Linked DNA regions of Homo sapiens: region 1 is linked to region 2. The links come from fine-mapping of genetic effects on gene expression. A gene starts in region 2. The other region holds a variant in brackets. All regions are shown on one strand. Distances are between the middles of the regions. Region 1 overlaps COL6A5 (collagen type VI alpha 5 chain). Region 2 holds the start of COL6A5 (collagen type VI alpha 5 chain).

Region 1 (5,391 bases), 95 kb after region 2:
CTCCTGACCTCGTGATCCACCTGCCTTGGCCTCCCAAAGTACTAGGATTACAGGCATGAGTCACCACGCCAGGCCAAGATAGAGGTTTTATCTGTTTCATTTATTTTCATATCCCCAGAACCTAGAACTACACCTATAACATTGTAGGCATTCAATAAATATTTGTTGAATGAATGAGTGAATGAGTGAATGAATGAATGAATGAATGAAGAGCATGGGGTTTACTCCTATGAATAAACTTCCTTGGTTTACCAGGTCAACATCTAGTCTTTACATGTGGGACCAACAAGGTCAAATACAAAATAACACCCAAAGCATCCAATTTAATAAAAATAGAGAGTAGGAATGTAGTAAATAGTTTCTAAACATATGGCTGGAATGATTATAAATATTTTCCAATGTTGATTCAGCACTTTACAGAAAAACAGAGGGTTTGGATTTTCTAGCCCTTTAATTTGCTCAGAGAGAAAGAGAAAAAGCATGAACATCTTTGTTGATGGAGAGATAGCCTCCTCACCACCTGGGAATGATAGATTTCTTTCATAATAAAAGTATCTGTTTTGCATGGTGCCTCACATAGAGTAAATGCCCAATAAAGAGTTATTGACTCACTGAATGAATGAATGAGTGCTGTATATTGCCCATTACAGTGAGTATTAAAGTATTTTAAAAAGTAATCAGGAAATAAGAAATCAGACAGTGTACCACCAGGAATTTTGAATAAAATTCTGTCCATTGCTTTTTGAAATAGACTTTTAAGTGGAATTTGTGATTGAGAGGGTCCTCTTGACAACTGAGAGATGTGCCTTCTTCTAGATAGAGTGGACTGGAAATAGTTGGGATCACTACCCACGGAGGCCAAAGGAAGCTTGGGAACGTACAATTTCTGCAGGGCCCAACTTCAAAAGCTGGCATGTGGTGTATAATCAGCTGGTGCATAATCAGAAGTGTGTACAAATTTAGTCCAGAATTGCAGGCTTGGAAATGATAGATTTTAATACTTGCCCCAGTGAGTGAATCTGGTCAGGTTATCTCATGGCAGTTTTCTCATCATAATCTAGGGATGATGATACTTGTTCTATAGATACTTTTTGTGTTATGTTTGGGATAAGCAGGGGATTGTGTGTGTGTGTGTGTGTGTGTGTGTGTGTGTGTGTGTGAACATGCACTGAATGGAGCAAAGAGCTATAATGCAAGGTAATAGTGATTAGTTGGGTGTTTTTTAAACTAATCCTTAAAGTGGTTTCCTACTAGTGACTAAAAACAATGAGCAAACATGCGTTCACTTCTTTTCCAATGCAGTTTGACAACACTGGAACATTTCAGGTGATTCCAGTTCCTCCAAATGGGGAAAATCAAACATTAGAAAGACTTCGGCGCTGTGCACTTTGCTATGGTAAGACCAATGAAGAGAATTGACTGTGCTGAAGAGCTTAAATGCCTTCTAGATGAGTTATTGAATGTGGTTTTATCCAGAGATTTCTATTTTTAATCATAGGTTCTATTTTCAGTTTTCTAGTTTTTCAATACCATATGTCATGGTTTCAATCTCTGGAATGTTTGGAGTTTCCATAGAATGTGAAAATTGGTTTAGAAAATTATCCCAACCAATGTAGCATTTCTTGGGGACAATTGGGTAGTTTGTATCAGAAGTCTCTAAAATATCAAAAATATTTCCTAAATGAGCTTGGACATGACTTGTACACTGCAGGTATCTGTGCTACCTACATCTGCTTTCAACAAAGCCCTTCCCTTATTGTCTGCTAGTGCCCGGAGAAGTACCGGGACATTGAAAATTTCTCATTAATTTAAATTATGTGAGATCAAAGAGATATTGATCAAATTATAATTCTTGGTAATTAGTCACTGAGTCACTTGAAGATCTCAAACAAGTGTCTTGTTGGGTCAGTGTTGAACCAATGATGTGTCTCTCTGTGTGTTTTCAGATAAATGTTTTCCAAATGCTTGCATTCGAGAGGCTTTCTTACCTGAAGATTCATACATGGATGTAGTCTTCCTCATAGACAATTCTCGGAATATAGCAAAGGATGAGTTTAAGGCTGTGAAAGCCTTGGTGAGCTCAGTGATTGACAACTTCAACATTGCTTCAGACCCTTTAATCTCAGACTCTGGTGATAGGATTGCTTTGTTGAGCTATTCTCCTTGGGAAAGTTCCAGGAGAAAGATGGGTACAGTAAAAACAGAGTTTGATTTCATCACTTATGACAACCAACTCCTAATGAAGAATCACATCCAGACTTCCTTC[C/T]AACAGCTAAATGGAGAAGCAACAATTGGTCGTGCCCTACTGTGGACCACTGAAAATCTTTTTCCAGAAACACCCTATCTAAGAAAACACAAGGTCATCTTTGTGGTCTCAGCTGGAGAAAATTATGAGAGAAAAGAATTTGTAAAAATGATGGCTTTGAGGGCTAAGTGTCAAGGCTACGTCATATTTGTGATTTCTCTGGGCTCTACACGTAAGGATGACATGGAGGAGTTAGCCAGCTACCCACTTGATCAACACCTGATACAGCTTGGGAGAATACATAAACCAGATCTGAATTATATTGCGAAGTTCTTAAAGCCATTTTTATACTCGGTCAGGCGTAAGTTATTATTTCATTGTTTGTCTTTTTTTTAATAAGCTAGTGTTTGTTAATACAGTATTGATAACCTATTTTTGTATCTATAGCTAATCTAAACATAATTTATGAATTAGATGGTGAGATAGGGGCAGGAATGGATCATTTGCTGGTTATACCCTGTTTATATCCTGGTCACAAAATGGTGAGGCCTGAGGCCTTTTTTTATGATAGTGTGTCTTTTAGCCAAACTCTCAGCACTAGAAAGCCACAGAGTGACTAGAGGTCGTATGAATCACATTTGCTCAAGAAGTTCTAGCAGCAGTTAGGTGATTTCAGAAGAACATTCACGTAAAAGTTTTACTTGCTATACCTGTTTTATTTCCAACTTTGGCACACCCTGGAGACCTGTGTGAGGATGTGAAGATAGCAAAGTCCTGGGCATGCACATCACCCAGGAATCTTGTTAAAATGCAGGATATTCTTACTGAGGATATCTAGGGTGAAGCCTGAGATTCTACATTTCTAACAGATACTGCAGTAATGTCAATGCTGCTGGTTCATGGATCACATGGCTCTAGGCCAGTGCACTACAAAGGGTTGCTCATTGCATGAGTGCCAGGCTACAAATTGATGTATAAAGAAATAAACACACAAATTGAGAGTAAACATCTAGAAACTTTTAAGGCAATTTGACATTGATTGCTGCAGCGTACAGTTGCATGACCAGTGGACTCTGTCTCATTGAACAGGATGTATCAGTCTGCAAAGAACTAGAAATAAGAATACCTCGTCCTCTATCACAGATGGTTTGGAAAAATGCTCTTCTAGAGCAATTGTTCTCAATATGGCACAATTTGCCCCAGGGGACATTTGGAAATGCCTGGAGGCATTATTTGACAGTCACAACTTGGGGATGCTACTAGTATCAAGTAAATAGAGGTCAGGGATATTGCTAAACATCCTACAATTCACAGGACAGACCCCCCACCACAACAAAGAATAATACATCCCCAAAAGTCAATAACACTGATGTTGAGAAACACTTCTCCATAATATCCCACAGAATCAGAGCTGAACCTTTTCTTTCTGGAAATCTGACAGGTTTAGAAGTAAACTTGGCTGGAATTAATTCCACCACTCTACAATCCCAGTTTCCTTGCTATTCAAAGGATCACCCCACAACACCACAGTGATAATGTCTTGAGCCTTCACTCTTCATTGCAAGGAGAGCTCCACCTTTCTCCTGTGATTCATATTCAATTAAAGAATCCAATAATTGCCCTCTTGGGAACACTGTTATTTCTTTACATCTAAGATGCCCTCAATTGTATAATGTAAAGGAAAAAAATGTTTCCAATTAAATTTTGATACCAACTTTCCTATTAGAGCATTTTGTTTTATAGCAATTGAAAGAGTTCTTTTGGATGTATAGTAAATATATCACTCCTGTGCATGCATAAAAAGAAAATCTATGTGAAATAGGCAGGTTAAGGCACTCCTAAAACAACTTCTGATTCAGAATTTGACTCTTGTGAGCTACTTCTTGGCTCAGAGTCATTGGTATCCATTTTTTTCTATGCAATTTTGTTCTTTGTGCCATTAAGATTGATGATTATGCAATATTTGTAAAAGACTATAAAACAACTCAAAGATGGTCATGCTGGGCTGTTAAGTGGCTTTGCAATCATGTAGAAGTAGCCTACTGTTGACTTCCAGCTGGGAAGTGTTAAACACACCCAATTCGCTGCCTTCCCACAACCACTTGGTTTGTAGGAGTGAAAAGGCTCCTCTGCTGGTATTTATGGGAATGTTTTCAAACTGCTCTCCCCAATTCTACAAGTTTTGGTGCTGGCATGTTTGCTGTTCCCACATGCACAGGCAATGACCACTGCATCACAATTCTTGCCCACCCAACAGTAAGTGTCAGATGCAATTAATCAGAAGATATATTTTCATTTTAAAGAAATAGAAAAAAGGAAAGAAATGCTTATCTTAGTATTTGAAAATGTGATTATTATAAAACTACAGATGTTATTTGAGATATTTTCATAGATCCTTGGATCAGTCAATGGCTGAAGGCCTTCTTTAACTAAAATCTTTTATTTTCCAGAATGGGACAGGGTAACATACTTCTCCATATTCCAAAATTTATAGAACAACATCAGGAAGGGGATAAATAGGCATATTATTTAGACCAGTAAGGTAAAATCTTGTCTATGATTCTTTTCCTCATAGGAATCAGTATTAGTGGGTGCAGAAGCACAGAAATGATATCAGTATCAAGTAATGAAACATTACCTTGTCTCTGTTTGATCCGTTAGCGTAAGTCTGGGTGAAAAACCTTTGATGAATCAGAATAGAGTATCTCTTAGATTATGTTAGCCTGAGCATGTGAAAATCATGTTTCCCTGCATCACAACTAGCTCTTAGATGAACAATTTGAGGAGGTCTGTTTCCATGACTCTGGTAATCCTTTGGCTGCTAAAACACTCTGAAATCAAATTTTGAGTGCTATTTCTAACTGCTGTTTTCTGTTTTCACCCCAGCCAAATTTTGCTGAAATATGTTAGTGACATTAGTTGCTTCAAGAGGATTCCTGTTGGGATTCTCTTTACCTAGGAAACATCATTTCCAGTTTTAAAATCTAACTATAACTTTGTTCTCTCAATAGGGGGATTCAATCAGTACCCACCACCGATGCTTGAGGATGCCTGTAGACTCATCAATTTAGGAGGAGAGAATATTCAAAATGATGGTTTCCAGTAAGTTAGAAAGCTCTTATATTTACAAGTGACTGCTAATTGGC
Region 2 (5,391 bases):
AAGTATTTCTTAAAGCAAGTAGCTAAGTCATTTTTGCTTATTTTCGGCATGGCTTAAACATAGAGAAAGTAAAGTATACTATATTCCAATATTATTTAGTACACAGAGAGGAAAGTATTTGGCTTCAGTTATCGATAATGCATTTTAATTGTTAACTTTTTATCTGTTGGTATATAGGCATGACCAAAGGACATTGAGTCACATGTAAGAAAAATGCTATTTTATCTTTTAATAGTTCTGATTGCATCAATGAGAAAGTTAATCATATTCCATTTAAATCATCTCACATCCAAAATCATCTTGCCTATTTCTGATAGTACGGTTTTCACATTTGCAGACATACCATCAATATTTCCCAGTGGGAATCAACGAGTGCAGGGTAGAGCAGAATTTGCTATCTTTTACTCTGATGTTATCTTCTTATTTAAAACAGCTGCAGAAATACAGATTATGAAGGTTGGGTTAATAAAAGGCAAATATAACTAATGATGAAGCCTGAAAAAAAATTTAATGTCTTTTCCACACTTTTGAAATTCTGGATTACTTTTCTTTTATTCAATATCTTTTTATTTTCTAGAGAAAATGGAAAGTGAAACCCAAGTCAGATAAAGTAAGTTCAATTGTGTTCTATTCTGTTAGAAAATTGAAAAGTTGGCACTTTTAGTGCCTGAATTCCTTCAGATATTAAACTCCAAACTTCTACTTTCTGAAGTAAATTAAGTTAATATATCCTTAATAGAATAAATGCAATTCTAAATAGTGAATAAATTTCACATTATGATTTATTTTGGGAAAACCTTGTTTCAATTTTATAAGCAGAAGAAAGGAAAGGAAATGTTAAAATCTGTGGAAAAGTTGTAGATTCCTGGAGCCACTTTTATTTCATGATTGTGAAAGTTAAATCACAAATATATTGCAAGTAAAAAAATTTCTACAATAATACTTTCTAGAGAAGTTTCTAAACAACAAAAGAACCCCCAAAACACAAACCCACAACTTCCTTTTGGCTTCAGTACTATTTGGATATTACCCTAATTGTGAAGGCAAAACCCCACCCTTCTCCTGAAGTATAAAGTAGGCCTTCTTTCTCCCTTGGGGCATTACTCTTGGTTGGGGAAGAACATCTCAATTAATAAATCTTTACACACTGAGGGTATGTGGACATCATAGTAGCAAAATTTCGGCCTGGGCCAGGCATGAATGTGAAATAGATGTATATTTTGTCCCCCCAGACTCTAGCTTCTTGATATTCCAGCCCATAGATTCTCTCTGTGCTTCACTCTGGTGACCAATGGAACATTTTCCGTTAAAACCTGGACAAATCTGAGACTCACTGATACCGAAGGGCAAGTCTTGGCATTCAAATCCAGGATTTCAGGATGTTCTGTGCAGAACACCCCATAACCCTGACTATTCCAAGTGAATTCAAAATAGATAAAATACACTTTTTTTTTAGAAAAACCATTTTCAACTTACATCAGTTTTTTCTTATTAATGAAAAACAACAAAAAAAACAAACAGTTTTTGGTTTACACATATTTGTGTTCTCTTTGAAAAAAAAAAATTTAATAATAAAAGGAGAAAATCCTGAAAGTCCTCATTACACTTCCCTCTCTTCATTCTTCCAACCCACTCTTTCTAACACATATTTAGAAACTTTCTAGTTAACTTCAGAAGCAATCTCAGAATCGGGTTCTTGCTGAGCAAGGGTGAGCTCCCATGTCTTATGTTTCCTCTTGACATTTTAATAAACTTTCATCAGTGTAAGTAATTGTAACATATCTCTTCACAGACAGCCTGAAGAAGCTAGCAGGCTGAAGCAATGGATTGATTGAACTTAACCACTCAAGCTAGGAGTACATTTACTGGCAGGTGTTATACAGATATGTAATATAAAATCTCAACCTGAGTACACGTCCATGCAAACCAACAAAAAATAAGCCATGCATGTAAGAATAGTCTATGCTTTCCAAGTTCTTCACTATGATCCATGTACTAAAAATCACAACTTCATTGTGTTGCCTGCTCCATTTCCCCATCCTGCCCTTTCTAGAAGTTGCTGGATAAAACTCCTGCTGCCTCTAGCATCAGGGGTGCGTTACTTTTTCTCTTGTAGGGCTTCCCCCAGGACTTTGCTCCTCCTTGGGCATTTTCGTTGGGAGGCTGCCTCTGAGAAATTGGGGGACTTGGAGCCAAATGGCGATTCCTCTGTCTAAGTAGTAGAAGTGACCGCAGCTCGGCTGCTAGTAAAGATTGCCCTTGGTTTCTGAGAAATTCTGACTCCCTAAGTTCATTTGGCAGCCGGCGGCTTCTCTGAAACAAAGCCAGCAAACAGCTGGAGCGTCTCTGGACACTCACATTAAAACTTGTGAAGAGTTAAAAGCCCCAGGGAAGAGCCAGGCCAAGGGCACGGGTCAGCGCCGGCTTAAAAGACCCTCTCAGGGCACGAGGCGTTCGCTGCGGGAATCCACCTGCAGCTGTGCGGCGCGGACCAGGGCGTGCGGCGCGGACCAGGGCTTCCGGCGCGCGCTCTATCCAACTGCGCCGCGGGCGCCCGAGAGGCGCGCGTTTACTGCGCTCAGGAGCTCGGTGCAGCCTCTTCTGGAGAGTTGGGGGCGGTTTCCAGGGTCCGGAGTGTCCCCTGACCCCGGGAAAGCTGGGTAAGTATGCGGTGCGGGGACTTGGGGCCTGAGGCAGGCGGGGGAGGAAACCTCGAGTAGACAGGTGGATGTGAGAAGGATTCTCCTTTCTGGTGATTTGCACCTGTTGACGCCCCCAAATCTGAGCTCTAAGGAATTTTACAGATGGTTAAGACAGGTTCTGAAAGGTAGACTCAGAATTCGAAAGGACCTTAGAGCAGTGCTATCCGAAGTGTGATGCAAGGACTAATAGCATCGCCTTGCCCTTGAAACTTGTTAGAAATGCAAATTCCTGGACCCCACAAAACCCTGTTGAACCAGAATCTCTGGGAATGGGGATAAGGAATGTGTATTTTAACAATCCTCCACGGGATTCTGATGCAGCTAAAGTTTGAGAACCATTGCCTTAGAAGTCACTTAGTCCTACATTTGAGCCCCTAGCCCCAATGCAGGAACCCCCAAATAAACAGCAATGGGTGTGTAGGTAATGAGTCAAAGGCATTAGATACTGGGGTGTATTCAGTTATAAAAATAACTTCTAAACACTCTTGGTTTGTGGGAATTCTATTCTGTCCCAAACGAAACTGTGATCTTTGAGATTTCCTAAGAACAGCACTCAGAGCTTCAACAACTATTTCTGAGTTTGTACTGTGTGCAAGTCTCCAGGTAAGGTTCTTTCAAAGTGCTGGAGGGAATTTTGTACTCTCAGGATCCCCAAGCTGGTAGCGTGTTATTTCTCTTACCAGGATCTTCATAAGTTGATGTAGTGCTTCATACATCACATTTATTTTGTTTTTTGGTATTCAACTGCTTGTTCTGAAATTAATCATTGTTAACTCAGGGTGTCAGGTTAGGTATCTTGGAAGATATATATTTACTTTGTGAATTCTGAACAAAAATCCTTAAGAAAAAATTCACACTGCAAGATTTTTTTCCATTTTTTCTATTTAAGTTTACAGTGCTACAATTTACCAATAGAATAAGTAGGAATCCTGAGATTTCATATGAATTAAAGTAGAGAAGATAATTCCCAAGTTTTTAAATAACTCCTTCAGATGAGGCAGGCTCTTCATCACTGCTGAGAACCTGAGCCATTAATCTTTGATGACGAATGAATGGTTTTGTGTTGTTATTATTATTCTCCTTTCAGTGGCTTAACTTAAAATATGAAATCTAAATCCACTGCTGACTTACTTGGAGACTCTGGAGCAAATTTATTTGCAGATATTTCTCAGTTTTCCCTTTTCTTCAATGGGTGGGTGCAGGATGTAAGGTTTTGATAGGGAACCTGCTAGCATTATCTTAAAGTAGTTCCCCGGAGGACCCTGTGTGGTTATGATATTGAACTATTATTAATATGTTAAAGCATAGAAAACATTCAATACAATGATTTTATATTTAATTATTTTATATATATATATTAAGTTAAAACATCTAAAAGGCTTTTTCACAGATTTCAAAAACTAATCACCTCTCTGTTTGAAAAGAACTTTGGAAATGTCAGTAAAATTGGGAGCCATTGCTAGCAATGTTATGAGCCTGTGAAAATAAAGTTTGCCACTGTAAATATTTCCCATCTTGAATCATAGCTACATGCAGAAATTGTTCATAAGTATTCAATGAGCATATGCTTAGCATCCTTCTATAATGAAGTGTAAGGCTGACACATATGTCTTGTTTGCATTGTATTTCATGTTGTGATTTTCCTTCCTCAAGTTCAAATCATCTTCCAAAAAGGAAGAATTTTCAACCCCGGAGCATATACTCAGAATCCTCCAGCTCTGAGAGTGGAGGGCACAAATTCACTTGGAATGTGTACTTTTCTTGGTATTGCAGTTTGCTTTGATGATGCCCCTGTCAATCTTGTAGGATCTCAGATCCAGTACACACTGAGCAAGTGGAAAGTGCAAAGGAAGAGGAGTTGGGCACTGGGCAAAGTTGGGATCTAAGATAAAACGAGATGCATGCCTACTTTATGAGGAAGGGCTGACTGGTGGTGCATGTGGCAGTTGCAAACATTTTTGTTGCCCCATCAATCCCTGGTGCTTTATGATACTTCCCTAAATTCCTCTGGCCTATTCCCTAACATGCACACAACTCACTACCCACAACCATTGCCACTTGCCATTCTCCAAGGAACCATTCTTTTTTATTTTTAATTTTACTTTAAGTTCTGAGATACATGTGCTGAACATGCAGGTTTGTTACATAGGTATACATGTGCCATGGTGGTTTACTGCACCTATCAACCCATCATCTAGGTTTTAAGCCCCACATGCATTAGGCATTTGTCCTAATGCTCTCCCTTCCCTTTCCCCCAACTCCCTGACAGGCCCTGGTGTGTGATGTTCCCCTCCCTGTGTCCAGGTGTTCTCATTGTTCAACTCCCACTTATGAGTGACAACATGCGGTGTTTGGTTTTCTGTTCTTGTGTTAGTTTGCTGAGGATGATGGATTCCAGCTTTATCCATGTCCCTGCAAAGGACATAAACTCATTCTTTTTTATGGCTGCATAGTATTCCATGGTGTATATGTGCCACATTTTCTTTATCCAGTCTATCATTGATGGGCATTTGAGTTGGTTCCAAGTCTTTGCTATTTGTAAATAGTGCTTCAATAAACATGTGTGCATGTATCTTTATAGTAGAATGATTTATAATCCTTTGGATATGTACCCAGTAATGAGATCGCTGAGTCAATTGGTATTTCTGGTTCTAGATCCTTGAGGAATCGCCATACTGTCTTCCACAAT

The links.
Region 1: its variant is fine-mapped to the expression of COL6A5 in lung (TOPMed, PIP above 0.99).

The regions. Positions count from the first base shown.
Region 1 is chr3:130,438,220-130,443,610 of GRCh38, forward strand. It overlaps COL6A5 (collagen type VI alpha 5 chain), which reads left to right. Exons shown (of 41, transcript NM_001278298.2): 34 at 1,303-1,396; 35 at 1,947-2,606; 36 at 5,257-5,347. Among named protein-coding and RNA genes, the nearest start is that of COL6A6, 76 kb to the right of the region's middle. RefSeq lists an enhancer at 4,029-4,586. The variant C/T (reference allele first, on the strand shown) is at 2,267.
Region 2 is chr3:130,343,322-130,348,712 of GRCh38, forward strand. COL6A5 (collagen type VI alpha 5 chain) reads left to right here and starts at 2,351. Exons shown (of 41, transcript NM_001278298.2): 1 at 2,351-2,660.